4 linked regions of the Homo sapiens genome follow. The protein of the gene in region 1 binds, or shares a complex with, the protein of each later gene. Each region holds a gene or a part of one and is shown on either strand. Other genes may lie near its edges.

What was found.
Region 2: THOC5 (region 1) and THOC2 share a complex: the UniProt entries of both Homo sapiens proteins name them as parts of the transcription/export (TREX) complex.
Region 3: THOC5 (region 1) and CHTOP share a complex: the UniProt entries of both Homo sapiens proteins name them as parts of the transcription/export (TREX) complex.
Region 4: THOC5 (region 1) and SARNP share a complex: the UniProt entries of both Homo sapiens proteins name them as parts of the transcription/export (TREX) complex.

What each region holds. Positions count from the first base shown.
Region 1 is NC_000022.11:29,550,758-29,558,625, forward strand, and holds the start of THOC5 (THO complex subunit 5), read right to left. Parts: upstream 3,001-7,868; 5' UTR 2,914-3,000; intron 2,899-2,913; exon of another isoform or gene 2,691-2,898; intron 87-2,690; exon of another isoform or gene 1-86. Other genes in the region: NIPSNAP1 (protein NipSnap homolog 1), read right to left, coding at 5,178-5,242. UniProt on the Homo sapiens protein: Component of the THO subcomplex of the TREX complex which is thought to couple mRNA transcription, processing and nuclear export, and which specifically associates with spliced mRNA and not with unspliced pre-mRNA.
Region 2 is NC_000023.11:123,730,049-123,737,428, forward strand, and holds the start of THOC2 (THO complex subunit 2), read right to left. Parts: upstream 3,005-7,380; 5' UTR 2,975-3,004; coding exon 2,904-2,974; intron 1-2,903. UniProt on the Homo sapiens protein: Component of the THO subcomplex of the TREX complex which is thought to couple mRNA transcription, processing and nuclear export, and which specifically associates with spliced mRNA and not with unspliced pre-mRNA.
Region 3 is NC_000001.11:153,637,059-153,644,077, reverse strand, and holds part of CHTOP (chromatin target of PRMT1 protein), read right to left. Parts: intron 5,784-7,019; coding exon 5,630-5,783; intron 1,836-5,629; coding exon of another isoform or gene 1,833-1,835; coding exon 1,649-1,832; intron 852-1,648; coding exon 714-851; intron 1-713. UniProt on the Homo sapiens protein: Plays an important role in the ligand-dependent activation of estrogen receptor target genes. May play a role in the silencing of fetal globin genes.
Region 4 is NC_000012.12:55,814,725-55,822,391, forward strand, and holds the start of SARNP (SAP domain-containing ribonucleoprotein), read right to left. Parts: upstream 3,001-7,667; 5' UTR 2,978-3,000; coding exon 2,942-2,977; intron 1-2,941. Other genes in the region: ORMDL2 (ORM1-like protein 2), read left to right, coding at 4,276-4,449, 4,618-4,769, 5,536-5,671; DNAJC14 (dnaJ homolog subfamily C member 14), read right to left, coding at 7,253-7,463, 7,649-7,667. UniProt on the Homo sapiens protein: Binds both single-stranded and double-stranded DNA with higher affinity for the single-stranded form. Specifically binds to scaffold/matrix attachment region DNA. Also binds single-stranded RNA. Enhances RNA unwinding activity of DDX39A.

The sequences.
Region 1 (7,868 bases):
AGGCATTCCACTGGGGAAGGTGATGAAGATGACCTGGGACTGTGGCTTCAGATGATGCATAGGTGATCTTAAATAATGCTGAACACCTAAGGAGAAAGTTAATCCCTTTTCAATTCTTATTTTGAAACTTCTGATTGCTTCAAGGAGAACATCTCAGTTCCCTAGTTTGTCTTTAACATCTATGAATGCCAATGTTCCTTTGTAACAAAAGAACTCTATCCCACAGCCTTAAACAACAAAATCTAGCCAGAGTTTGTTAACAATGATCTAGTTGCATTATATTAACTATATTAATTTTTACCTTCTACATAAAACAAGTGAAAGCAGCTTTCCATTTCTGGTGGAGAGATTTCAAGTTTTCTCTCAAAGTAAATTTGAGTTTAAAAAGTGACTTGGCTGGGCGCAGTGGCTCAGGCCTGTAATCCCAGCACTTTGGGAGGCTGAGGCGGGTGGATCACCTGAGGTCAGGAGTTTGAGACCAGCCTGGCCAACATGGTGAAACCCCGTCAGTACCACAAATACAAAAATTAGCCGGGAGTGGAGGCGGGCGCCTGTAATCTCAGCTACTCAGGAGGCTGAGGTAGGAGAATCACTTGAACCCAGGGAGCAGAGGTTGCAATGAGCCGAGATCGCAGCCACTTCACTCCAGCCTGGGCAACAGAGCGAGATTCAGTCTCAACAACAACAAAAAAAGTGACTGGGCCCAACACCATGGCTCACACCTGTAATCCCAACACTTTGGGAAACCAAGGCAAGCAGAGGTGAGAGAATCGCTTGAGCCCAGGCGTTCAAGACCAGAGTGGGCAACAGAGCGAGACCCCATCTTTAGAAAACATTTTAAAATTAGCCTAGTATGGCGGTGCACACCTGTGGTCCCAAGCTACTCTGGAGGCTAGGGTGGGAGGATGGCTTGAGCCCAGAAGTTCCAGGCTGCAGTGAGCTATGATCGCGCCACTGCACTCAGTCTTGACAACAGAGATCCCGTTGCAAAAAAAAAATTTGGACTGGATTAAAAATTTTTAGTAAACCCCTCCCCCTCCCCCCTCCCCCTCTCTCCACGGTCTCCCTCTGATGCCGAGCCGAAGCTGGACTGTACTGCGGCCATCTCGGCTCACTGGAACCTCTCTGCCTGATTCTCCTGCCTCAGCCTGCCGAGTGCCTGCAATTGCAGGCGCGCGCCGCCACGCCTGACTGGTTTTCGTATTTTTTGGTGGAGACGGGGTTTCGCTGTGTTGGCCAGGCTGGTCTCCAGCTCCTGACCGCGAGTGATCGGCCAGCCTCGGCCTCCCGAGGTGCCAGGATTGCAGACGGAGTCTCGTTCACTCAGTGCTCAATGGTGCCCAGGCTGGAGTGCAGTGGCGTGATCTCGGCTCGCTACAACCTCCACCTCCCAGCCGCCTGCCTTGGCCTCCCAAAGTGCCAAGATTGCAGCCTCTGCCCGGCCGCCACCCCGTCTGGGAAGTGAGGAGCGTCTCTGCCCGGCTGCCCATCATCTGGGATGTGAGGAGCCCCTCTGCCCGGCTGCCCAGTCTGGGAAGTGAGGAGCACCTCTTCCCGGACCCCATCCCGTCTAGGAAGTGAGGAGTGTCTCTGCCCGGCCGCCCATCATCTCAGATGTGGGGAGCACCTCTGCCCCGCCGCCCCGTCTGGGATGTGAGGAGCACCTCTGCCCGGCTGCGACCCCGTCTGGGAGGTGAGGAGCGTCTCTGCCCGGCTGCCCCGTCTGAGAGGTGAGGAGCCCCTCCACCCAGCAGCCGCCCCGTCCGGGAGGTGGGGGGCAGCCCCCGCCCGGCCAGCCGCCCCGTCCGGGGGGGAGGTGGGGGCCAGCCCCAGCCCGGCCAGCCGCCCCGTCGGGTCGGGGGTAGGGGGGCGCCTCCGCCTGGCCGCCACCCCGTCCGGGAGGTGGGGGGCGCCTCTGCCCGGCCGCCCCTTCTGGGAGGTGAGGAGCCCCTCTGCCTGGCCGCCACCCCGTCTGGGAGGTGTACCCAACAGCTCATTGAGAACGGGCCATGATGACGATGGCGGTTTTGTCTAGTAGAGAGGGGGGAAATGTGGGGAAAAGATAGAGAAATCGGATTGTTGCTGTGTCTGTGTGGAGAGAGGTGGACAAGGGAGACTCCATTTTGTTCTGTACTGAGAGAAATTCTTCTGCCTTGGGATGCTGTTGGTCTATAGCCTTACCCCCAACCCCGTGCTCTCTGAAACATGTGCTGTGTCCACTCAGGGTTAAATGGATTAAGGGCGGGGCAAGATGTGCTTTGTTAAACAGAAGCTTGAAGGCAGCATGCTCCTTAAGAGTCATCACCACTCCCTAATCTCAAGTACCCAGGGACACAAACACTGCGGAAGGCTGCAGGGTCCTCTGCCTAGGAAAACCAGAGACCTTTGTTCACTTGTTTATCTGCTGACCTTCCCTCCACTATTGTCCTATGACCCTGCCAAATCCCCTCTGCGAGAAACACCCAAGAATTATCAATAAATACTAAAACAAACAAACAAACAAATTTTTAATAAACGGTAGTAGAGGTGGTAAGTTGATCTGGCAAAGCCTACAAAGACCGGACCTGAAAGGCTTAAGTGTGGGAAATCCTGACTTTGGCAACACAGTAGAGTGCCTGGCACACCGAAGAGCACGATATATGTGAGCTGTTACCATCACCACCACCCCCACCCCCATCAGGCTACATTACCACAATCAAGAGGCTCCAACGTGAAGCCTGAGGATGCTGCAGCGAACACTTTTCGGATGAGGTAACAGCGCAGCGCCGAGAGGCCGGGGACCGCGGGTAGTGAGGGAGGAGAAGCCGGGTCAGACCCCAGCCCAGGGGCGCCCTTTGGGCGATCAGCACCTCAGTCCCGGAGCGCCCAGCCCCGCCCCATCTCCCAGCCCCACTGCCCTTGTCCCCTCCTCACCTCACAGCTCCAAGAACCTGGCACCGGGAGTAAGCCACTGCCGGAGGCGGAGCAAAGCTTGCCCGCGCACCATAGAGAACCGGAAGTAAGGAAGGGGCGGCCGACCGGAAGCGAGGCGTAGAGGCCGGAAGCTCAGCGCGGAGGCCCCCGAGGGAGGTGGTGGCGTGGTGAGACTGTAAAAACAAAGACACATGCTTCTCGTTCACTGTGCCCAGGGCCTAAGAGAGTGTCCAGCAGCTAGTGGGCGCTCCACCGAGTAGTTGAATTAATGTTGTGTTATGTCCAAGATAACACGAAAGAACCTGGTAGCGCGGCGGGGAAGATTTCGGCGCTAGAGGATTTGCCTGCATAACCTTACTTCTTAATTATTATTTTTACCATAATATGCCACGCCAGTGAAGGCAACAAGTCAGGGAGGGCATTAACCTCATTTTACACTTGGCTTTTTGAGGAGTGCATCACCAGTTTCTCCATTTTAGGCCTGACTTGCCCAGGACAGAGTCACAACTCTAACGCAGTATTTGAAAGCTTCAGGTATTTCCTACCCCTGGCATGAACTGTACAAACAAGGCCCAGGATTTTTTCGTGTAAATCCTCATCTGGAGCTAGTAACACGTGTCCTGAATCCCTGGTTGTACGGGGCCAGTTCCTTCTCCTTCCCAGGAGCAAGGAGGAAAATACTGGCTCTTTTTTATTTTTATTTTTATTTGAGACAGAGTTTTGCTCTCTCACCCAGGCTGAAGTGCAGTGGCGCAATCCCCGCTCACTGCAAACTCCGACTCCAGGGTTTAAAGGATTCTCCTGCCTCAGCCTCCTAAGTAGCTGGGATTACAGGCATGCACCACCATGCCCAGCTAATTTTTGTATTTTTAGTAGAGACAGGGTTTCACCATGTTGCCCAGGCTGGTCTTGAACTCCTGACCTCACTCAAGTGATCTGCCCACCTCGGACTTCCAAAATGCTGGGATTACAGGCGTGAGCCACTGCACCCAACCAGTACTGACTGTTGAGAATAGCTCAAGAACACAGTACCCTCCAGGAGGGTAGATCTGCCATGTGGGACTAAGCCCACCAGCTCTACTGTGCCCTGCCTCAGGCACCTGCTAAAGTTCCTTGCAGATGAAGAAAAGACACTGATTTATAGTAAATATTTAATTGTTTCCATCAGCAATTCCAGCACAAGTTTTCCTGGATGGTAGGCAGAATCAAGCTACCCAAGGGTTCATGATGAGGTATGGGGGTCACTGAGGAGACCCCCAGAGTCACTGACCCCTCCCGCCACCTCCACACACCAGGTGGCCCTGCAGAATGAGGGTTGGGCTGATAGAATGTCAATTAGGGGAGACAGGATACAGGGTGAGGGAACAGGGTCTAGCTTGTATATTTGCCTGCAGGAAGGAGGGAGGGCAGGAGAGACTCTGCATAGAAGGACTGGAACTACACATTTAAGTTTTCAACCCCAATATGCAGGGGGAAACAGCCAAGCCACTCTCCATCTGTCTAGTATTAGGAACCTCTCTTCAAGTGGTCTTTTGTCATCTCTGTTCTTCTTCCCAATTCTGTATTCCAGATTCCAAATTCTACAATTGAAACCCAAGTTCTGAATTCTAAGTTCTACCTTCCGAGTTCCTGTTACGTGTCTGTCTCCTGCCCCTAAATCTTTCCTGGCTCCCATCCCTTTCCCCAGCCCCTCTGGGCAGAATGTCTGAACCTCCTCCTGACCGTGGTGACGAGGTTTGTTTGTATTTGTTTTTTTGTTTTGGCAGTTCCAGGCTTTTCTCCAGCAGGAGGGACTTGGCTCAGACTGTCCAGCAAGTGGGTGGCCCAGTGGAAACCAGGGAATTCCTGAGGGCCTGGCCTGGCCTCCTCTCTTCCCACCCCACCTCTAGCCACTGGACATACTACCTTTTGTGCAACTAAGCTAAACAGAGGATTTCCAAGGGTGATAACTGGGGACTGGTGGCCTTGAGATGAGGAATTTTAGAAGATAAATGAAGGCCTAAAAGATCACTATCTTTCATTCAGGGAAATCAGAAACTACTTCTAGCAGGGGGAGGGAGGCAGGCAGGGAAAGTAGAAAGGGCCTGGGCAGAGCTGTAATCCTCAGAACTTGTCAGCCTTCAGTTCCCCCTTGTCTGAACTGAGCACTGCCCCTCAGAGTCCTCCCAGAGCCAAGACAAAACCAAGACAGCAGGACCAGGAGTGCCACTGTCTGTCGGGGTTGCCTGAGGGAGAAGGGGAAGGAGGTGGAGGTGTAGGCAGCATCACTGCAGAGGCGAGATCTTCAAGGGGATCATGATCCTAGACTCCATGTGTCGCACCAGGGGGACTGCGGAGAGAGAAGGCAGAGGTCACACAGGGGGCTCAAGCAAGCCAACAACCTCCCCTGGCCCCACCCACACATGCTGGCCTTTGAGTGGGCAGGAGGAGGCCCCAGATGCTGCGACAGGAATGTCCCATTGCCCTCGTGGAAGGGCCCATGAAGAGCACCAGATCCCTCAAATTATGGGATAAGACAGGACTTTGGTGGTGATGAGAATAACATTTTCTTAAATTTTAATAGTTATCTGTTGGCCAGGCATGGTGGCTTGTGCCTATAATCCCAGCACTTAGAGAGGCCAAGACAGGCGGATCACCTGAGGTCAGGAGTTCGAGACTAGCCTGACCAACATGGAGAAACCCTCTCTCTACTAAAAATACAAAATTAGCCGGGCGTAGTGGCACATGCTTGTAATCCTAGCTACTCGGGAGGCTGAGGCAGGAGAATCGCTTGAACCCGGGAGTCAGAGGTTGCTGTGAGCCGAGATCAGGCCATTGCACTCCAGCCTGGGCAACAAGAGCAAAACTCCGTCTCAAAAAAAAAGAAAAGAAAAACACTGATTTAGACCAACTGCCTCGTTTTACAGATAGAGAGGGTGCAGCCTAGAGAAGGTCAGCTCCAGGTCATCCAGGAGGTTAGACTCTTTCCTCCAGCTCAGAGCTTTTCAAACTTTAATGTGCATACAAATCACTTGGCAGTTCTTGTTAATGTGCAGATTCTGATTTGGTAGGTTGCAGGAAGCCTGCGATTTGTTATTCTTGTTTGTTTCTTTGTTTGAGATGGAATTTCACTCTTGTTGCCCAGGCTGGAGTGCAATGGCACTATCTCGGCTCACTGCAACCTCTGCCTTCCGGTTTCAAGCGATTCTCCTGCCTCAGCCTCCCGAGTAGCTGGGATTACAGGCATGTGCCACTATGCCTGGCTAATTTTGTATTTTTAGTAGAGACAGGGTTTCTCCATGTTGGTCAGGCTGGTCTTGAACTCCTGACCTCAGGTGATCTGCCCACCTCAGCCTCCCAAAGTGCTGGGATGACAGGCGTGAGCCACTGCGCCCAGCCGAGATTTGTCATTCTTAACAAGCTCCCAGGGGATGCCAATACTGTCAGTTGGGACCACACTTGATTTTTTTTGTTTTTTGTTTTTTTTGAGACAGGGTCTCACTCTGTCTTCCAGGCTGGAGTGCAGTGGCAGGTTCTCGGCTCAATGCAACCTCCGCCTCCTGGGTTCAAGTGATTCTTGTGCCTCAGCCTCCCGAGTAGCTGGGATTACAGGCTTGAGTTACCATGCCTGGCTAATTTTTTTTATTTTTAGTAGAGACGAGGTTTCACCATGTTGCCGAGACTGGTCTCCAACTCCTGGCCTCAATTGATCCACATACCTCAACTTCATAGTGCTGGGATTACAGGTGTAAGCCACTGTGCTTGTCTTGTTTTTTATTATTTTTATTTTTTATTTTTGAGATAGGGTCTCACTGTTGCCCAGGCTGGAGTGCAATGGCACAATCATGGCTCCCTGCAGCCTCAAACTCCTGGGATCAAGTGATCCTCCCACCTCAGCCTTCCAAGTAGCTGGGACTACAGATGGGAAACACCACGTCCTGCTAATTTTTAAAAAATGTTTTGTAGAGATGGGGTCTCCCTATGTTGCCCAGGCTGGTCTTAAACTACTGACCTCAAGTGATCCTCTTGCCTTGGCCTCCCAAAGTACTAGGATTTCAGTTGTGAGCCACCATACCCAGCTGGGACCACACTGAATAGCAAGGCTCCTGCTAACTCCTTCAGCAGACACATTCTCCCTCATACCACCTGGTAAGTGATCACTGTAAACTTCTCAATGGCAAGGACAGGCTCTTGTTCATTTATGTGCCCCTCAACCACCTACCTACCACAGTTCCCGGCACACAGTGAGGGCTTAATTAACACCCACTGACTCTAGGTGGTTTCAGGTTCCTAGCAAAGTGGCAAACACCTTGAGCAAAAAACTTGTTCAAGGCTGGGCACAGTAGCTCATGCCTATGATCCCAGCACTTTGGAAGGCTGAGGTGGGAGGACTGCTTGAGCCCAGGAGTTTGAGACCTGCCTGGGTGACATAGTAAGACTGCATCTCTACAAAAACAAAAACCTTATTCAAAAACATTTCCTGCATGCTTCCTTTGTGACAGACACTGGAGAAAGCACTTTTCATAAATGAGTTTGTGGGCCAGATGTGGTGGCTCATGCCTGTAATCACAGCACTTTGGGAGGCCGAGGCAGGCGGATCACCTGAGGTCAGGAGTTCGAGACCAGCTTGGCCAACATGATAAAACCCCGTCTCTACTAAAAATACAAAATTAGCTGGACATGGTGACACACGCCTGTAATCCCAGCTACTCGGGAGGCTGAGGCAGGAGAATGGCTTGAACCTGGGAGGCGGAGGCTACAGTGAGCCAAGATCATGCCACTGCACTCCACCCTGGGTGACAGAGTGAGACTGTGTCTCAAAAATAAATAAAATAAAATAAAATATAAAATAATAAAATAGTTTGTAGAATCTTCCGTTATAGCCCTCTGACAGAAGCACTATCACCATCACTATCTTACAGACGAGGGAACAGCCTCAGCGAGGTAAAGAACCGTGCCCAAGGTCACAATGGGCG
Region 2 (7,380 bases), on another chromosome or scaffold:
AAACTGACTATACTGATTTGGATCTACTATAATTCAATCCACATTCCACAAGTCATGCAATAACTACATACACGTAAGTTCTAATAACAGGTTTTTTTGCTGTTGTTTTTGGTTTGTTTTTGTTTGGGTTTTTGTTTTTTTTTTTTTTTTAAAGAGTTTCGCTCTTGTTACCCATGCTGGAGTGCAACAGCGCGATCTCCGCTCACCGCAACTTCCGCCTCCCAGATTCAAGCGATTCTCCCGCCTCAGCCTCCTGAGTAGCTGGGATTACAGGCATGTGCCACCACGCTCGGCAAATTTTGTACTTTTAGTAGAGATGGGGTTTCTCCATGTTGGTCAGGCTTGTCTGGAACTCCTGACCTCAGGTGATCCACCCGCCTCGGCCTCCCAATTTGCTGGGATTACAGGCGTGAGCCACCACGCTCGGCTTCTAATAACAGTTTTTAAGCAGCTCTTCAAACATAAGAACTATGACAGATAGCATGTATTATGTAAATATACATAATGTGAACCTAAAATTCCATTTTATCTAAGTATTTCGATCTCCTACATCACTTTTTCTCAAACCATTACCAGTCAGAAGCCAAGCAGAATTTCACCTTATAGCCCTAATACCACTCATGCTAAGGTGGCAGCAATAATAGTAAAACTGTTGGGAGGCCGAGGTGGGCGGATCACCAGGTCAGGAGATGGAGACCATCCTGGATAACACGGTGAAACTCCGTGTCTAGTAAAAATACAAAAAATTAGCCGGGCGTGGTAGCACGCGCCTGTAGTCCCAGCTACTCAGGAGGCTGAGACAGGAGAATCGCTTGAACGTGGGAGGCGGAGGTTACGGTGAGCCGAGATCGCGCCACTGCACTCCAGCCTGGGCGACAGAGCGAGACTCCGTCTCAAGGGGGAAAAAAAAAAGTAAAACTGTCAAAAAACAGTAGCTGAAAGGAGGAAGCTGAGCAATCTACAAACATAACAGCCCCTAAATAAATGAGCTGGCTTTGAAAGTAAACAAAACAATGAACTGCTTTTATCAGTTTTGGGGGATTACCCTAATATCGATGAAGATGATGGTCTGGCTGGGTAACTTCCCATCTTGCCTTCCCCAAACTTGATGGCTATTTGTCAACTAGCTATCAAACTTGACAGCTATTTGTTAACTAGCACATACGAGGATTTGTAAAATGTTCATTATAGTTAAAAACGAAGATTTATCAAATAGCCTTCTCTGACAATTAATAAACCAATAAGCATTCTAAGCATAGGCTGGGGGGGCGGGGCATGTGTTAAACCAAAAGAAATATGAGACATAGTCCCTATATTTCAAAGGCCTCCCAATTCATTACAGTGCAAGAATAAACACACATGAATAAGTCAGAGACCAATTAATTGCTAACCTGAGTGGTACAGACTTTAAGTGCATGAGCTGTCCTGAGAAGTTTAAATATCTAAAGGTTGGAATAATATTACTTTTAATAGCTATCACTTGAGCACTTACTATAAGCCAAGTGCTTTACAGGCATTATTTAGTCTTCACAACAATCCTTTGAGTAGAGTACTTATTATTCCCAATTTACTCAAGGGGAAACAGTCCAAGTGGTTAAGGAACTTACCCAAGGTCACTCAGCTACTTAAGTGGCTAAGACAGCCGCTTATTTAGGGAATTCTAGAGCTCACACTGTTAAGACTTCATACAGCAGTGCGGGGGGTGCGGGGGAGGAAGCCACATAGGCTGGCACTATTACAAGCGCGGGATCCGGCAACGCGTTCCTCGTGTTTCGTTCCAAGTAACGAAGTTACAAAGATTTGAATCTTTAGCATGAGCCACGGTAAACTGGCTACTAGAAATGGAGAGGGGTGGGCAAGGACGACAAAAATGGCTAACGAGGGTTAATTTCATCCAGGGTTGAGCTTTAGCATCTAAAAGCGACCCAGAGAAGGAAATGAGATGTTATTAATATTTGTTCTTATATCTGAGGTTTGCTTTGCTGCTTAAACGACTCCTTCCAGGGGAAGGGGAGGAGGGAGCGCTCTAACGTGGGGGCGAGAAGACTAGGGGTATGGCAAATTACTGTTTTCGGTGTTACGGGGGAAAGTTTCACGACTAAAGGAAACGCGTTATCCTAGGTACTGGAGAAGCTTGGAGAGCTGCCAGAATTAGTTGCAGTCCCAGGATAAAATGGGGTTTAGGGAACATTTAATGACGAAAGTTGAATCCAACCCGAAATAGCTCTAAGGTGAAAAGACGGAGCAAAGAAATGTCGGTGGTTCTTCAGGGAAAGCGGCAATCCCTGCCACACTTCCCCACGGCGCTACGCGAGGCCGGGACAGTCGAGAGACCGCTCCCCGGGAGGGCGAGAGGTGCCAAACCGGGTTCTTCGCGGCGCCCCGGGCTTCGCGGCAGCGGGCGAAGAGGAGGGGAGGGGAATCCGGGACGGTTCGCCCTCCTTGGACTTCAGGCAGAGGAGGCGCCAAGCTCCAAACTGCGGAGTCCAACGGGTGCAGAGTGAAGAAATGGCACAGAGAGAGATGGAAAGTCCGAATTGCCCCGGCTCAGCCCCATAAAGATAAAGGAGCCAAGTGAGATCAAGCGAAGAGGGGGACACAAAAAGAGACCAAGAGGGAGCGCGGAGACCTGCAGGGGCGGAATAAGAGTTCTACTAAGAGGCTAAAGGAAGCCGAGCTACCGCAGGCAGTAGCGATTTCTGGGAGGCCAGGGAAGGAAGGAGGTCCGCGGCGGTAAACAGCACCTCTCCCCGAGTTCGAAACTCCTAGACGACCATCCACGCCCGCCGCCCGGGTGGGGGAGGGGGTACATCTTTCCCCCTCAACCTCCCACTACAGGTGAGAGTGCAGCTGACGCCCTGGCCCGGCCCGGCAGTGCGCCTGCCTCCGGCCCGAACACTCACAATTCGCCTCTCCCTGATTTCTCCCAGTTCTTTATCCACTCTGCGGGAACCACCACAGCCGCGGCCGCCATCTTCCTCTCACTAGTAGCAGAAGCCCGGATGTGTAGCACGCGAGCGAAGGGTCAAAGGGGAGCACCGCCCACGAGGAATGCCGGGAGCTGAGAGTTCGTTTTTCGATTTCCCGCCCCACTTTCCTCTCCACCCAGCGGAAACCCGAGGCAAGGCAGCCAACGACGTGGAGACTCGCGGGCCCCTTTGCGAGGTTACTACACGGGTTGCGCCCTCCGAAGTCTTCGGCCTTACTTCCCATTAGAACAGAGAAATGCCATCCACAGGCCAACAAGTAGACTTCATCTTCTTCCGTAATATCTACCCCTAACCACTAATACAAACACGCATTTTTCAAGCACCTAATATGTGCTAGACACTGGGAATAGAGAAATAATAGTCTTTGGGAAAGCCATAAATATAAGCAAATAAATTACATTACGCCCTGCTGACTGCTGAGATAAAAGAAAATAATCGGGTCCCTCTCCTTCTCCCTCTCCCTCTCCCGTCTCCCTCTCCCGTCTCCCTCTCCCCACGGTCTCCCTCTCCCTCTCTTTCCACAGTCTCCCTCTGATGCCGAGCCAAAGCTGGACTGTACTGCCATCTCGGCTCACTGCAACCTCCCTGCCTGATTCTCCTGCCTCAGCCTGCCGAGTGCCTGCGATTGCAGGTGCGCGCCGCCACGCCTGACTGTTTTTCGTATTTTTTTGGTGGAGACGGGGTTTCGCTGTGTTGGCCGGGCTGGTCTCCAGCTCCTAACCGCGAGTGATCCGCCAGCCTCGGCCTCCCGAGGTGCCGGGATTGCAGACGGAGTCTCGTTCACTCAGTGCTCAATGGTGCCCAGGCTGGGGTGCAGTGGCGTGATCTCGGCTCGCTGCAACCTCCACCTCCCAGCCGCCTGCCTTGGCCTCCCAAAGTGCCGAGATTGCAGCCTTTGCCCGGCCGCCACCCCGTCTGGGAAGTGAGGAGCCTCTCTGCCTGGCCGCCCATCGTCTGGGATGTGAGGAGCCCCTCTGCCTGGCTGCCCAGTCTGGAAAGTGAGGAGCGTCTCTGCCCGGCCGCCATCCTGTCTAGGAAGTGAGGAGCGTCTCTGCCCGGCTGCCCATCGTCTGGGATGAAGTGAGGAGCGTCTCTGCCTGGCCGCCCATCGTCTGAGATGTGGGGAGTGCCTCTGCCCCGCCGCCCCGTCTGGGATGTGAGGAGCGCCTCTGCCCGGCCGCGACCCCGTCTGGGAGGTGAAGAGCGTCTCTGCCCGGCCGCCCCGTCTGAGAAGTGAGGAGACCCTCCGCCCGGCAGCCGCCCCGTCTGAGAGGTGAAGAGCGTCTCCGCCCGGCCGGCCGCCCCGTCCGGGAGGGAGGTGGGGGGGTCGGCCCCCCGCCCGGCCGGCCGCCCCGTCCGGGAGGTGACGGGCGCCTCTGCCCGGCCGCCGCTACTGGGAAGTGAGGAGCCCCTCTGCCCGGCCACCACCCGGTCTGGGAGGTGTACCCAACAGCTCATTGAGAACGGGCCATGATGACAATGGCGGTTTTGTGGAATAGAAAAGGGGGAAAGGTGGGGAAAAGATTGAGAAATCGGATGGTTGCTGTGTCTGTGTAGAAAGAGGTAGACATGGGAGACTTTTCATTTTGTTCTGTACTAAGAAAAATTCTTCTGCCTTGGGATCCTGTTGATCTATGACCTTACCCCCAACCCTGCGCTCTCTGAAACATGTGCTGTGTCCACTCAGGGTTAAATGGATTAAGGGCGGTGCAAGATGGGCTTTGTTAAACAGATGCTTGAAGGCGGCAGGCTCGTTAAGAGTCATTACCACTCCCTAGTCTCAAGTACCCAGGGACACAAACACTGCAGAAGGCCGCAGGGTCCTCTGCCTAGGAAAACCAGAGATCTTTGTTCACTTGTTTATCTGCTGACCTTCCCTCCACTATTGTCCTATGACCCTGCCAAATCCCCCTCTGCGAGAAACACCCAAGAATGATCAATAAAAAAAAAAAAAAAAGTCAACAGAAAAAAAAAAAAAAAAAAGGAAGGAAAACTTTCCAGAAGAGAGATGTGTCTAGCACAAGAGAAGAGGAATAGTCCTGAGCCTGGAGGATTATTTTGCAGGAATCTCACAGGGCAGTTCCTAATGCAGGAGAATTAAAATAGGCTTTTCCTGGTGTATTTCTTGCAAACATTTTGGGCCAAGTGGCCTTCCCACACCCTCACATGAGCCTGCTTCCCTCCCACTCCTCTGTCATCAGGGCATTTCTGTTTAGGAACAGCAGGTCTAATATTGACTTAAATAAAGCAGACTTGACAGAAAAAAAAAAAAAAAGAAAGAAAGAAAATGTGGCACATATACACCATGGAATACTATGCAGCCATAAAAAATGATGAGTTCATGTCCTCTGTAGGGACATGGATGAAGCTGGAAACCATCATTCTCAGCAAACTATCACAAGGACAAAAAACCAAACACCTCATGTTCTCATTCATAGGTGGGAATTGAACAATGAGAACACTTGGACACAGGAAGGGGAACATCACACACCGGGGTCTGTTGTGGGGTGGGGGGCGATAGCATTAGGATATATACCTAATGTAAATGACGAGTTAATGGGTGCAACACACCAACATGGCCCATGTATACATATGTAACAAACCTGCACGTTGTGCACGTGTACCCTATAACTTAAAGTATAATAAAAAAATTAAAAAAAAAAAAAACACACGTTTGGCAGAAAATACAGACAATCCAAATGAAGAAATCCTACCCCACATATGAACTTTAGAGCTAGTATCTTCTAAATATGGCAAGTTTTGTCAAATGAACCAGGTTCATTTGCATTGAAAAACTATTTAAGTTATGTGCTGTATTCAGAACTGGTTCTGGGAAAATGCTCCATTGTTTATGATTGTTTTTCACCAGCTGTATCTAGTCTTCTAGTGTCCTGTCTCACTTTGAAATTCTAAAGCCACCCACTAGAAAATATCCACCTATTAACTTCAGTGATTTCTGCTTGTAAAAACCTTCTGCCGTTTTGAGGAGGATCAAATATAGAAGTGCCCTCTAATCTTTTCATGTTTCCTTATTATGGACAATTTAAAATGTATACAAAGCAAACAGAATGATACAGTGAATCTTCATGTACCATCATCCTTCCTGGAAAACTTTGAAGTCATTATTACAAGACGGCTTCTGTGATACAAGAAGCACTATCTTGCTACTTATGTATACTTCTCTGTGTAGTCTACAGCAAGGACTTTCAACCTGGGTCAGATAATTTTTTGTGGGGATAGGGGGGATGGGGGCCAGGGGGCAGGGGTCCTCTGCATTGTAGAATGTTTAGCAACATCTCTGGCCTTGACTCACTAGATGTCAGTAGCAGCCCCCATACACACACACACACACACACACACACACACACCCACACCAGTTATTACAACCGTTTCCAGACATTGCTAAATGTCTCCTGGAGGGCAAAACAGTCCCCTTTTGAGAACCACTGAGCTACAGTATTCTCCTGTACTGTGGCTTACCTTGCCACGTATCACAGTGATTTCTTCTTCCAAACATTGAACTGTGCAGTATGCATAGTAATCAGTATGTCACACTTGTGGTATGACCTGAGTGCAATGATGCCCTTTGAGGCCTGGTTTTCCCTTCTTCCAGAAACTGCAGAACTATTTTTACATGGTATGATGACTCCTTTAGGAATTACTCAGAGCTAATTGGCTTTTTGATCTATAAGATTGCAAAGCTATTAAATCTTCTGCATCCTTGTTGTTGGCTTGCCTGCTCTTTGCTATCAGCATCTGGTATTATCTCAGCAGCTGGGGGGATTTTTCCCTGGTGATCTCACAAGCTCATGGATACCAATGTGCTATTCAGGGACTGAGGTCTGTGGTGGAGGCCAGGGATTGGGTAGTTTCAATGTTGACAGTCTGATGCATGGAATGATAGGTTGATTTTAGGTTACTGTAAGGTCAAGCAATCTTATAACTTACCATCTCAGTGAAGACAAATAATGGGACCAAAAAGGAAGCACATAAAAGCAAAACAAGACAAAATAACAAAATAATTAAAGAATGAATGCAAAGGGTTTTTTGAGATTTAAAATGAAGAAAAGTTCTTTAGAATAAGCTACTTGATAACTTCTGCATTTTATGCTAAGGCTGTTTATGCCAAACCAATCTACTTGTCTCCTTCCTGTCTACAGTGCTCCTTTGGTAAAAACAAGATCTTTTCTTTTTCTTTTTCTTTTTCTTTTTCTTTTTCTTTTTCTTTTTCTTTTTCTTTTTCTTTTTCCTCCCACTTCAGCCTCCCAAACAGCTGGGACTAAAGGCACTCACCACCACACCCGGCTAATTTTTGTATTTTTTGTAGAGGCAGCCCAGACTGGTCTCAAACTCCTGAGCTAAAACGATCTGCCCACCTCGGGCTCCCAAA
Region 3 (7,019 bases), on another chromosome or scaffold:
GGGAGTTTTCCACTAAGCTCTAAACCAGAAGGCTCCCATGAGATTTAGTATTAACAGCAGCAACATCATTAAACTCTTTCCCAATCTGGGTCATGAGGTCACAAGACAAACATCAATAAATTTCAAAGGCAAGATTATCAATAAGAGCCAGTTAGTTAACTGATAATAATTCCATCTTGCTCTCTACCTTAAGCAAAAAAAGTCATCTCTGGTTCTCCACAGGCACCAAATGTGACATTGAATTTATTTGGTTTCAGAGCCAATGCCCAGCTCCAAGTCTCACCACCCTCTTAACTCTACTTCATCTTTGTATCTCTCTCTCTCTTCTATATTCTCATGTGACTCAAACCAGGATTTGGAGCTACAGGGTGGTATGTGGTGGTGATGGTGGTGGGACAGGGGCAGAGAAAGGCAAAACCCTAAACTGACCATTTTGGGGGGTATTTTCAACTATACAATTTAAATTTGCAAGAGCTTGGAGGAAGATGGCATATAATCTGGCTCTATAATATGCACTTGATTGATTCTTGGAAAAATCATGAGACTTTTGCACTACCAGCATGGTAATTTGAAAAATAAGCCAGTTTCAAATAACAAAACAAGACAAACAAAGAAGCCTGCCTATGACTTGAAGCTGTGCAGAAAGGTGGCTCTGAGTTTTTAAGGGAGGAAAGTAAGGGGGAGCTACTCTCTGAAGTTGGTAGCTGACTAACCTCTACCACCGATTCCGCCACGACCCATAGCTCCACGCCCTAGGCCCCCTCTCCCAGGACCTCCACGACCTCGAACACCACCTCTTCTTAAGCCCATTCGGGGAGCTACGGCTCGTCCACCTCGGAGCAGGTTTTGACCTTAGAGAGGAGGCATACAATGTATATGCAGGTAAATCCAAGAGACACAAAGTAGATTCTAACCAAAGGAAGGCGGTGAGGGTTAAATGAAGGTAATTCAGTTAGTTTTTAGGTTGGCTGGGGCAAGCTGCATACTGTGAACAGATTAAGCTACTCTTTATTCAATCAATTCAACAAGTCTGACCACAAATCCATTTTTGGAAGTTGGGAGTTAATTCAATTAGTAAGTACATACATTTAATAAATATCTACTGAATAATCAGATAGATGCCTAGCATTATGGTAAATTTAAAAATAAATGCTATGGTTCCTGATCTCAACAGATTCTTCTAGGGAACAAGAACTATACAGGGAACAGAGTAATAGTGCCCCAAATGAACATATATAGGTAAGTGCTGTGGGTCAACTTGTCCTCTTTTTCCAGCTGTATCAGTGTTTTACTAGCACCAGGAACAAAGAGATATAGGCCAAAAGACCTATAAATTTCTTATGTTTGACTTGTTTCTAGAACTTGAATGTGCTTTGATTCAAGCAACAGCAGGGTGTTTTAAAATGGAATGGAGATGACATGAATTACCTGTTGTTACGCAGGTCATAGCCTCTCACCATTGCACATTATCAGAAAAGGAATGGTATTGATAAAAGACATGCAGCACTATTAAAAATATGTGATTTCAGAAGTTATTATATTAATACAAATTCAGGCTTAAAGATGTTAAACAAACGTGTCCATAAGCAGCCCAAGAGAAAAGGGAAGGGAGTAGGGCCCGACAATTATCAGGGTACACAGCACTGACCTCGGAGTGACATCCCGCCCCTAAGTAGGGTTCTGGTGGCACGTCCCCCACGTAGTCCTCCTCTGGGCAAGCCTCTCTGGATTATGGGTAGGCCTCGTCCTCCGATTGCTCCCCTGGCCAGGGCCCCTATGGGTCGGCCTAACCGTGCCTGGATGTTACTCTTACCCAGGCGCTGCTTTAAGCTCTTCTGGAAGAAAAGGTGTTAGGGGATTGAGATCAAAAAAGCAATCCAACAGGATTTGGCAACTCAAAGTGCAGAGAAAAAGAAGCAAGTGAGATGCTGGTGTGAAGGGAGATAAACCTGTTGTGGGTGTCAAAAGGATCCCAAACCAGAAGCAAGCCTTTGCCTCAGAACATGTTATACAAGCAGCAGAATTTTGATCCAGAGCAGAAACTCCAAGAAGCTCAAGTGTGGTCCCATGAAATGGGCATCTCCACAAATTACCTCACTAGTTTGGCTACAGAAGTCATACACTGCCAGTTGAAACTTAAGTTTTCGTAAGAACATTCTATAGTTCAATCCTGGATTGTACTGCTTTTGAACTACAGGTTGACAATTATATGACTTGATTCATACCTGCCCATGGACTACCACTGTCTTCAAAGGCTTACTCAAACACCATAGGAAGTTCATCACACTCTGGGCAAAACTTAAATTACAAGTTCACTTGAGTTCTTGTGACTTAAGAACAAGATTGATTTCTCAAAAAGGCCCGTGTGCTCCATTTTTCCTCTGAGAATCTATTTCCAGACGGTCCACTTTTTACCTTAAGATGTAAATAAACACAAGAAAGTCAAATCTCCTTTCCTTACATTTCTTAAAAATCCCTAATTCCATGCCTGCACTTGCAAACAGCTCCTTTAAAACAATGATGACCTTAAATTAAAAATAAACATGTAACTCAAATGTATCTCCACAGTCAGCCAGCCAAACGTATGTTAGAATTATTCAGGTGATCACAAAACTCAGGGCCATATATAAGAACAAGGACACACTACAGAGATAGGGTATTTTTAAGAATCTGTTCTCAAAAGAAAACCATTAAGACTACATCTCAGAGAATTAAATTCCTTCAAAGGAAAAAGGGACAGCAATAGCCCTGAACACAACCAAGCTCCTAGTAAGCCTGGCTGTCCATAAAGCCATCAGTCAATCTGAAAGAAAATAAATTGTATAGCCCCTTCAGGCTTCACCCACAAGTGACTACCAACGTGTATGTGTGTGTTTTCTAATCAACCTCTCAAAAAGATGCTGTGAAGCATTATTAACTTTCTAGCACAAGATCATAAATTGCTTCTCATCAGTGGGGAAGGCTCCAAACATTATGCATCTAGCATAAGTAGGTGTAACCAACCGTAACGGCCTGTCCTGTTACTCCCGATTAACACACAATTATCAGGTTAGAACTGCATTCCACAAGTCTCTTGCGTTCAGTTATCCTGCATATATTAATTCTCCCAAGCTTTGTGCTTTAAAAGAACTGTACAGTGCTGGGAAGTTCTTTACCCATTCCAATCCTTAAGTGCCACCAATACCGGCCTTTAATATTAACAGGGAAGTTAAGGATGTCAACTATACCACTTAGTTTCCCTTCTAGAGGTGTGCTGTGTAAGGCAGCCTCTATAGCTACATGTGGCTATTTCAATTATTTTTATTTTGAGATACAGTCTCGCTCTGTTGCCCAGGCTGAAGTGCAGTGACACGATCTTGGCTCACTGCAACCTTCGTCTCCCAGGTTCAAACAATTCTCCTGCCTCAGCCTCCCGAGTAGCTGGGATTACAGGAGCTGTCATCACGCCTGGCTTATTTTTGGTGGAGACGGGGTCTTGTCATGTTGGCCAGGCTGGTCTTGAACTCCTGACCTCAGGTGATCCACCTGCCCAGGCCTCCCAAAGTGCTGGGATTACAAGTGTGAGCCACCATACCCAGCCTAAATTAAAAGCAAATTTTACTTATTTTCTTGAGACAGAGTCTCACTGTCACCCAAGCTGGAATGCAGTGGTGCCAACTCCACTCACCGCAACCTCCACTTCCTGGGTTCAAGAGATTCTCCTTAGCCTCTTGAGTAGCTGGGATTACAGGTATGCGCCACCATGCCCGGCTTTTTTTTTTTTTTAGTAGAGATGGGGTTTTGCCACATTGGCCAGGCTAGTCTCAAACTCCTGACCTCAAGTGATCCGCCTGCCTTGGCCTCCCAGAGTGCTGGGATTACAGGCCTGGCCTAAAATTAAATTAAAAAAAATTAAGCTCCTTAATTGCACTAGTCACATTTAAAGTTTTCAATAGCCACATGTGACTAGTGGCTACTGTACCGGAGAGCAAATACAGAACATTTCCATCATTGTAGAAAGTTCTGGCTGGGCACGGTAGCTCATGCCTGTAATCTGAACACTTTGGGATACTGAGGCAGGCAGATCACTTGAGGTCAGGAGTTCAAGACCAGTCTGGCCAACATGACAAAACTCCGTCTCTACTAAAAATACAAAAATTAGCCGGGTGTGGTGGCGGGCGCCTGTAGCTGAGACAGGAGAATCGCTTGAACCCGGGAGGCGGAGGCTGCAGTGAGTTGAGATTGCACCACTGCACTACAGCCTGGGTGACAGAGCAAGACTCCGTCTCAAAACAAACCAAACCAAACCAAACCAAAAACATAAAAAAATTCTATTTAATAGTACTACTCTGGATAGGGACTACTTCCTGCAGAGCCTATACTTAAAGCTTCTTGTTGAAAGGTCCTTTGGAATGATCTGTCAGAGATTCATCTTCAGCAACTTCCATTTACTCTTGGAAAATGGTGCCTTTTGCTGCTTTCCTGAGTCAGGGAGGAATCCAGTCACTCCAAGGCTTAAGGTAGCCGAAGCAGACACCCTTGTTTATTTTTGGTCAGTGAGCCCAATGGTTCAGGGTGGGGGTGTAAGGGTGTTATATTTAACTGCTGAATTTATGCATAGCCATGCAATGCTACCAAAGCCCTTACAGTTGCATGGCACTGCCCTCCAGACGCCCAGCCACAGCTTGGACATATCCTTCCACAGCCACTGTCCGGACTTGCATATAAATTCTATGAATAATAAAGAGCAGGTTTTATTTCAGGTCTGAATAGGATTATCTCTCACTGTAAATTTGAAAAAGAGAACCCCTAACTCAAATTACTCAGTATTCTTGCTCCACTTTACTGGTAAAACTTTAGGTGCTGTGGAAATGAGGGTCACTCTACTCTGTATATTTTAGCATTGAAAACCTTTGACTGCTGGGCGCGGTGGCTCAAGCCTGTAATCCCAGCACTTTGGGAGGCCGAGGCGGGTGGATCACGAGGTCAGGAGATCGAGACCATCCTGGCTAGTATGGTGAAACCCTGTCTCTATTAAATATACAAAAAAATTAGCTGGGTGTGGTGGCGGGCACCTTTAGTCCCAGCTGTTCGGGAGGCTGAGGCAGGAGAATGGTATGGACCCGGGAGGCGGAGCTTGCAGTGAGCCGAGATCGTGCCACTGCACTCCAGCCTGGGCGACAGAGCAAGACTCCGTCTAAAAAAAAAAAAAAAAAGAAAACCTTTGACTAAGGCCATGCAAACTCCCTGCACTATGGGAAAAAGAATAAAATTATTTCCCTGTTGGGTAAATCATTTAACAGAGAGTAAAGGATGCTGTGAGATTATCTAAAGCTGAAATAAAGTTTCTTTGTGGAATAAGCCATTAATCTATGTTAAGGGTTAAGGATCAGAAAACAAAAGATTAATACTCATTGGTAACAGAAACAGGCCACATAGATGGCAAACTCCCTAAAAGAGAAAGACAGTAAAAAGTTACTTATTGGTACCTGCCAAAATTGGAATTCTCTGAACTTCTCTTTCTTCCAGAGAAGTTTCAGCTTTTTGCCCTGAGCCACTTTGCAATCATCCATCACGTCCTGACAGCCTCAGTGGACTCCCTCACAGAGATCACCAGCTGCTTCTGGAGCATTAAGACCCATTCTCTCACCTGCTTAAGTTTTAATGCTGCCTGGACAGAGGGTCTATTCTCCATCTGCTGGGCCAGTCTTCTGTTTCTGGCACTGGCTAGCTGCTGTTGTTGCTGCATCGAAGCCCGAATATTCACTGGCGTCGGCTGTTTGTTCTTCAGCATATTAGTAAAGCTTCAAGGTCGAACAAAATGGATGTTTAAATAAAAGCTTTATTACAAACATTTATTGGCATTTTCATGGCTTGCTAGACCAGGAGCTCCAGATCCCACGAACTTTTAAGTAAAGTGGTACACTTAGATCAAGGCTGATGTGGGTTAAAGACTCCTCTGTTTCCACAAACTTGCAAGAATCAGAAACTTAGAAATGCAGCTAAGTGCAGCACATTCAACCAAAAGTGATAACGAGGGCTCAGGTAACGGCTTTTAGAGAGGTGGAAGGTATGAAAAACACGCAATAAGCAGATATGACAAGAGACAGAAGATATAGTTTCAAAGACAAATGAAGAAAGCCTAAACCTTGGGGGATCCGAGGTGCATTCTAAGGCCAAATATGAGGAAGGATTAGAGCACCTTCAAAGCTCACAGCAATGAACATACTCTCATAAATTACAGGAGTGTATCACATTTTAAAATATATGTCACTAACATGCAAACATAAATATTATGCAAACATAAATAATTAGCTTATCATAGCCAAAGAGATAAGGAGAGAAGCACATATGCCTCAGAAGAGGCAAAAATAGACATTAAGTAAATTTCAGTGGTCGAAAGTCAACTTAATGAAATCACTGATCAAAGGCATTCTTTTTTTTGAAACGGAGCCTCACTCTGTCCTCTGTTGCCCTGGCTGGAGTGCAGTGGCAGGATCTTGGCTCACTGCAACCTTCGCCTCACGGGTTCAAGTGATTCTCCTACCTCAGCCTCCTGAGTAGCTGGGATTATAGGCACACGCCACCACGCCCAGCTAATTTTTCTATTTTTAGTAGAGACAGGGTTTCACCATGTTGGGCAGGCTGATCTCAAACTCCTGACCTCGTGATCCGCCCGCCTCAGCCTGCCAAAGTGCTGGGATTACAGGCATGAGCCACCGCGCCTAAACAAAGGCACTCTTAATGAACAAAGTTGTCAGAGATAGAAACTGCCTTTGAATATCTTTACTTTTCTTAGTCTCCAATCATCACTTTTTCTGACTCCAAGTAGTTACTTTTCAAAGTTACATCAGTTTGATCATTTATGAGCCTGTGAAGAGACTCATTATTTCTGTCAAGGAAGTATAATGGAATGGAAGAGAAGAACACTTAACTGTAGAAGAATCCAAAACAAAACCAAACTAAAAGCAGAATGGAAAGAAAGTGAAATGGAGCAAAGCGAGTGCCTCTTACAAGGCCCAAGAATGACATTCAAGGGC
Region 4 (7,667 bases), on another chromosome or scaffold:
CAGGCATGGTGGCACGTGCCTGTAATCCCAGCTACTCGGGAAGCTGAGGCACGGGAATTGCTTGAACCTGGAAGGCGGAGGTTGCAGCGAGCCGAGATCTTGCCACTGCACTCCAACCTGGGCGACAGAGCGAGACTCCATCTCAATTTAAAAAAAAAAAAAAAAGAATGACTGCATTTCTACAAAATCCTCAGAAATTTGCTGTTGATATGACATTACATATCAACTCAGATACATACTATGTTTCCTTCCTGCTTCAAAAGGTATTCCCTTCCCCTGAGGTTCCATACCAAAGCCCAAAATTCTCTTTATGACAATGGAGAGATTTTTTTATTTTCTTTTTTTTGAGACAAGGTCTCCCTTTGTCACCCAGGCTGAAGTGCAGTGGAGCAATTATCACACAGCTGACCACAGCCTTGGCCTCCCAGGCTCAAGCAATCCTCCCACTTCAGCCTCCTGAGGAGCTGGGACTACAGGTGTGTGCCACCATGCCCAGCTAATTTTTTAATTTTTTTTGTAGAGACAGGGTCTCACTATGTTACCTAAGCTGGTCTCAAACTCCTGGCCTCCGCCTCCCAAAGAGTTGGGATTACAGGTGTGGGTCACTGCACCCAGCCAAGATTTTTTTTTAAGGCAATAAAACCCCAAGTCAACCCAGAAGTCAGGATCATTGCATCAAGATCACCAGTGGAACCAAACATTAATTGTCCTAAAAATCAGAATCAAAGGCATGAGTTCTTTTTTTCTTTTTGAGACGGAGTCTCACTGTCCCCCAGGCTGGAGTGCAGTACACCATCTCGGCTCACTGCAACCTCCAACCCGGGCTCAAGCGATTCTTGTGCCTCAGCCTCCTCACAGCCTCCTCAATAGCTGGGACTACAGGCACTTGCCACCACACCTGGCTAATTTTTGCATTTTTGGTAGAGGCGGGGTTTCGCCATGTTGCCCAGGCTGGTCTCGAACTCCTGGCCTCAAGCAATCCGCCCGCCTAGGCCTCCCAAAGTGCTAGGATTACAGACGTGAGCCACCACGCCCAGCTAAAGGCATGAGTTCTTAACCAGAGGTCCATGGACTCCTCGGGGCTACAAGGTAGTTTTATGAAGCCCCTCAAACTGCATGCAAAATATGTGTACATGCCTTTTTCTGGGGAGAGGGTCCATACCTTTCATCAGAGTTTCAAAGATATCTGTGACCTCCAAAAGGTTAAGAAGTGCTCTAGAGAAAAAGCAAAGACAAGCAAATGTGATTAAAGAGCAAGTCCTTTTTAGGCTGTCAGGAGTGCCTAATGTTCTCTTAGACTGTAACACTGAAATCAGGTCAGAGGACTTTACGTAAAAGTTACTTATCCAATCAAATACAAATTTTATATAGACCTGACAAATACAGATTTGATGGAAGGAGGAACTCCATAAACCAACACAATCTATAAATGCAAGTAAGTCATCGGGCAGCTGGTGACTTACTCCAGGGATTTCAAAAATAGGACAAATAGGAAGAAAATATTAGCTCTTCTATATATAGTTCCTTTTTATCTCATTCAAAAATTCCTTTTCTGTGTTATATTTTATAACAGTCCAGAAGTATACAATTTCTATAAGTACAGTATATATAAACAAAGTGGAGATGATTGCTCAATTTTTTTTAACTCATCACAATAAAGATCAAGAGACCGCTGATATAGTCTATGCATTTCAGTATCATCAAGTTAACAATAACTCCAGAATAACACAAAAACCCACTAACAGAGTTTAGAATCCAAGAGTAAGAAAAACATCAGTTTCACAGAAAGACTAATTGGGGTCAACTAATAAGTGACTAAAGAAGGGTCCTCTCCCTACCCTTACTACCCTTAAGCTTTCTTAACAGCAACAAAAACAAAAAAAAACTTTTCGAGCTTTAAAGGATCACTTTTCAGTTTCAGCTATATCAGCCTGGTTTGTCCAAAACATCTAATGGGAAAACTACTTGTGAAACCACAAACAGACAATTACTCAAGATATCTTAATTTACCCTAAAAGAAAATACTTTTTAAAATGTTCTTCTTTTTAATATATTTTTTTAACTTTTTTATATATCTAAGTGTGAAAAAACTACCAAGAGTCTCATAAGACAATTTAAAATAGCTTCTGTGATTCAGTGTCAGCCAATGGTAACACCAGGAGATGCAGGGCCCACCCGAGATATGAAATGGAACAGAGATAATCTTAACCTTGGAATTGTTTTTCCCAAATATTGCAGGTGTGAGTTCTCTCTGGTGGTTGGAGATGGTGTGTGAGGAAGGCTGGCGGGCCGAGAGCCGCGTGACAGAACTCGAAAACTTTTAAATCTGAGGTGTCTGTACTTCTACTATTCTCAAGACCTCCTCAACCCCAGGCTTCTAAGGCGAGACCGATCTTCTGAGAGGCCTCTCCCTGTTTCAAAATTCGGCTTGGGGCGTAATCCCACCTAGAAAAGGGGAGTGGAAGTATTTTCTGAGTGTCTGGTACCTATTTAGACAGAAATACACAAAAATGCCACCATTTGCTAACAGGGAAATCTCAGCTTCGGACGACAGACTGGAAACATCATCCCAGGGAAGAAAAACGGATCCTGGCTCCGACATGGGGCAAAAAGGAGGGACCAACTGACGTAATGCAGCCCTGAAAAGCAACGAAGAGTATAACAGGTAGAAGGCACTTACACAACCCAGTGGGGAAGGGTGACGGACGATACAATGATGAAGGAAGCAGAAATAACAAATAAATATAGCAGTAAAGCCGTGAGGAGAAATGGGAAATTAGGGAAGGCGTAGTGTGGAAGGGTGGCACAAAAGAGCTACGGCGGGAGCCGAGAAACGAAGTGGAAAAGGCTGCACGGAGAAGACGTAGGAGAAGGCGCAAGCTACCCTGTAGAATTCAGTTCCTAGAAAAGTCCAACTCAGCCCTTCCCCGATTCACGGTACCTTTAGCTTATGGAGCTCCACCGTCTCGGTCGCCATCTTGTTACCCCTCACTCCACTAGGCCCCCACCCGCGGCCTCCGCCTCCAGGAGCTCCCGCCTTAGGCGTAGAGATGCAAGGCTGACCAATCGTTGTCACTCTTGCTCCCACGCCATACCATCAGCTCTTCCCATTGGTCAATAGCTGACGTCGCTCTCACTTCTCTAGGCAGCTTGCCCCACCTCTTTCAAAAGGTGGAACTGGGAGAGGGGCGGGCACTGTATCTTGCGAACGACAGAAATGGCAACCAACTGTGCTTCTGCATTACAGACCACCAACCAATGGGTGGTGGCAGCGCTGATTCTGTTCCTCCAATAGGAAAGGGGCAGAAGGAGAGGCGTTACTTCCTGGAGACTTCAGGTGTGGTAGCCGGCGCCGCGCCCATAGCCGGACGGGGATCTGAGCTGGCAGGTAGGAGCTGCAAAGACTGTAAGGGTTGCTGAGGAAAAATGGTGGGAGGCGAAAGGGGCGCCGAGGGAGTGGTGACCTAAATACTGAGAGGGGAGCGCTGAAGGGAGCCCTGAAAAAACCGATGAACATGAGGAGGAAGCTGGGAGGGGCATGGGGCGGGCTTAAGGAACTGGCGGTGGGGCTGGGGCGGGCAAGAGCCGCTTCCTAACCAGACATCATCAGCTTTAGAGCTACCACAATTTTAAAGATCCGAGTTCAGATAATCACTGCTGCCCCTGGAGTCAGAGCCAAGGCTCCACCTTTCGAGGTATTGAGCTCAGGTCCCTTCCTAACCCAGTCCAGAAGCCGTGGGCAAGTTGTTGTCGTGCCCCACGCTTGAGAGAAGTAATGGGGATGCAGACTGTTTACATGCCACGGAGGTGAGAGAGAGGGTGGACAAGCCCCAGAGAACAAAGTGGGGACCAGAGTGAGCTTTACTCTGTCATCCCTTCTTAGTGGTTCTTTGATGATTCCATGACTTTCGCCTGGAATTCTGGGTGTACGTGACCTCTTCATGGTTATTAACTTCTTCAGCAAAGTCAGATACTCCTATTTCCCTTGCTCCCTGAAGTGAGTGCCCCAAGCCTACACATACACCTTCATGTTACAGTTGACGTGTAAAGATCAGAGCAATAATGACTATGTCTCTGAAATGTAGTGAGGACTCTTCTTGTCTTTTAAAGTTTTCCCCAAGTCTTCAGTTTTTATTTTCTGCGTGATGGGTAAGTTCTTCATTCCCAATAGAGTTCAGGGGATTGGGGCTATCTGAGAGACAACTGGGAGATAGCTCAAGAGGGGTTGAGAAAAAACTGAGCTGGACTCCTGCCTGATCCCCCATTACGGCTAGGATGAATGTGGGGGTGGCACACAGCGAAGTAAACCCCAACACCCGAGTGATGAATAGCCGAGGCATCTGGCTGGCCTACATCATCTTGGTAGGATTGCTGCATATGGTTCTACTCAGCATCCCCTTCTTCAGCATTCCTGTTGTCTGGACCCTGACCAACGTCATCCATAACCTGGTGAGCACTAAACCACGCCCTTGTACCCACCCCAGGGTTTCCCAACCAAAAGCAAAATAAAATCACCAATTGTTTGGGGATTTATGTGTTCCTTTTGGGATCTTAACATAATTCTTTGACTGAAAAACTACTTTCTGCCCCTCACACTGCCACCTTCCCTGTTCCCAGGCTACGTATGTCTTCCTTCATACGGTGAAAGGGACACCCTTTGAGACTCCTGACCAAGGAAAGGCTCGGCTACTGACACACTGGGAGCAAATGGACTATGGGCTCCAGTTTACCTCTTCCCGCAAGTTCCTCAGCATCTCTCCTATTGTGCTGTGAGTCTATGGGGGAAATGAGATATGCTGGGTTAGAAAGAGCTCCAAGAGCCAGGTAGAAAGGCCCATAGGGAAGCTGTTAAAAAGCAGACTTCTCATCTAAAACCCTTTGAAGATATTATGGTATACTAGTTCTAAGCCTACAGAGAGCAGTAAAATGTAGATTACAGTCAATACTGTAATCAAGCATTCCTTGCTGCCTCCTTGGTAGTAAGGAAATGAAGGGACTGAGAAAAGATAAGTGCCAAATAAAACCAAATGATTTTACACTGCCAAAAGAAGTAAATAAAGGCAGAACTGATATTAATCTTCAAAAACACTGTAGGGAGTGGAAGCAAAGAGGACTGTAACAGTCATACAGACTGAAATAGCTTGAGCCGTCATTTGCCATGTCATTAACAATTAACAGATACTGACTTACAGTCTCCAGTTAAGGGTGCTATCTCCTGAACCCCAAAGTAAATGCTGTTGATATAGCTGGAATAGTTTTAGATAATCTAGAACTATATACAGTAAAACTGGTCATTTAAAATAGAAGAGAAAGAGCAGGGCACTGTGGTGCATGCCTGGAGTCCCAGCTACTTGGGAGGCTATGGCAGAAGGATTGTTTGAGCCCAGGAGTTTGAGGTTGTACTGCACGTATCACACTTATGAATAGCCACTGCACTCCAACCTGGGAAACATGGTGAGAACTGTCTCTTAAAAAAAAAAAAGAATATGGATAGAGAAGGTCAACCTCACTCACCCTATTTTTTTCTCTCCCCAGCTATCTCCTGGCCAGCTTCTATACCAAGTATGATGCTGCGCACTTCCTCATCAACACAGCCTCATTGCTAAGTGTACTGCTGCCGAAGTTGCCCCAGTTCCATGGGGTTCGTGTCTTTGGCATCAACAAATACTGAGGGATGGGTTTTGGGACAGCTCCATGGGCATGGGGAAGGCACTGAAACAGAGGACTATAAAACATCCTTCTCTTATTCTCCATACTGTCTTCTACACCTTTAAAGCCTGAGAACTATACAACCTTTCCCAGACTCCCAAGAAGAGAAGAGATTGGCAAATGGGGCTCCTGGGCCCAGTCCTGCTAGTGGCAAGTTTCTTTGAATCAGGAAGGCAGGTGAGGTAAGGGCCAAATCACTCTCCTCCATAGCAGGAAGCCATTTGGGCAGCTTCTTTGGTGATTACATCTTTCCATATCTTTTACACTTACCACCTTCCAGCTCTGTTTTGCTGTGTATTTTTCTTACAATAATTTTTTTCAGCTATAGCTGCAGTTTAATCAGGATGGGTAGAGAGCTGTCCTCATAAGGCTGGGGGTGGGAAGATGGAATACTGACCTAATGTATAAAACTTAAAACAATTCTCCAATCCCCTCTCCTTTGGTCCAGTAGGAGGTGCCCTTCACTCTAAGCTTAACACTTAGTAGGGAAGAGATTCTCAAATGAGAAAAAGGGCTCCGGCTATATGGGCAACAAAGAGGGAAGATACAGGTTGCCAGTTATACATTTATAGAAAGATAATCCCCTGGCTTTAAATAGTCATGTACATACAAATATGAACAAACTTAAAAAAAAAATACAAACCCTTGGATCACATGGGGGCTTCTGGGAACCCCCGTATTCTTCCCCCTCACCCAAGGGCAGTGGGCATGAATCTACTTTTTAAAAATGATTAATTTTGGCCATCCTTGCAGAAAAGAGCCTAAAATTGGGTGATTTACCCACAAAGTGAAAGTCGAGGGAAAATTCAGTTTCCAGTCTCTGAACTCTATGCGATAATCTCCTATCATTAGGGCTACATGCTTTCTTGTTCTCTTTTAAATATTATATCAGGATAAAGGAGAGGGCTCCCTCCTGAAATGGGTCAAGAAAGAAGATAGACTTGTAGCTTTAAAAGGGTGGGAAAAAGTGTCATCTGCCCTAAAAGCAAATGACAAGACAAAGGCATACAGACCCCAGGGAAATACCCAGTTCCCACACCTAAAGGGATACACTGTCCAGCCCAGGTCCAGGCCCTAGGTTCTTTACTCTAGCTACCCCCTATTTCTTTGGTATTGTCAAAAGACAAGATTCAGGCCGGGCACAGTGGCTTATGCCTGTAATCCAGCACTTTGGGAGGCCAAGACGGGTGGATCACCTGAGCTCAGGAGTTCGAGACCAGCCTGGGCAACATGGTGAAACCCCGTCTCTACTAAAAATACAAAAAAGAATTAGCTGGGCCAGGTGTGGTGGTGTGTGCCTGTAATCCCAGCTACTCAGGAGGCTGAGATGGGAGAATTGCTTGAACCCGGGAGACAGAGGTTGCAGTAAGCTGAGATCACACCACTGCACTCCAGCTGGGCAACAGAGCAAGACTCCATCTCAAAAAATAAAAAGAAAAAGATTCAGTTCCTAGGTGTTGGGGGAGGAGGGATAAATCAAACTCCATCCTGTGCTACAGCCCTTTTGACTCCCTGACATTGATTTGAGGAAAGAGAAGGGGCATCAACGTTGGAAGGGCCTCCTCACTTTCTTCCGCCGCTTAGGTTTGGCTTCTCCCTTGGGTACTGTGCTGTTGGGCTTAGAGGCTGCAGCGGCTCCAGGGGCAGGCTGAGGAGCTGCAAAGAAGTTCCCATTGGGCATCTGCCCTGGGGGTACTTGAAAGATCCGACTCAAGAAATCCTGAAGATCAGCAGGAGGGGCATCTGGGGTGGCTCTGAGGTAAAACAGAAGAAATAAGGCAAGAGATGTTAGAGTCATATGGTTACCTAAGTTAGATATACTTATCAGTTCCCAAACTTCCTAGAAAACAAGGCCCCTGGGTGTCCTAAAAAGCAGGTCATCTGAAACCGTATTCAAAACTGAAATAGTGGATAGATTATTGACAGAAATACCACCTACCTCTGCCGCCCTCTGGTGC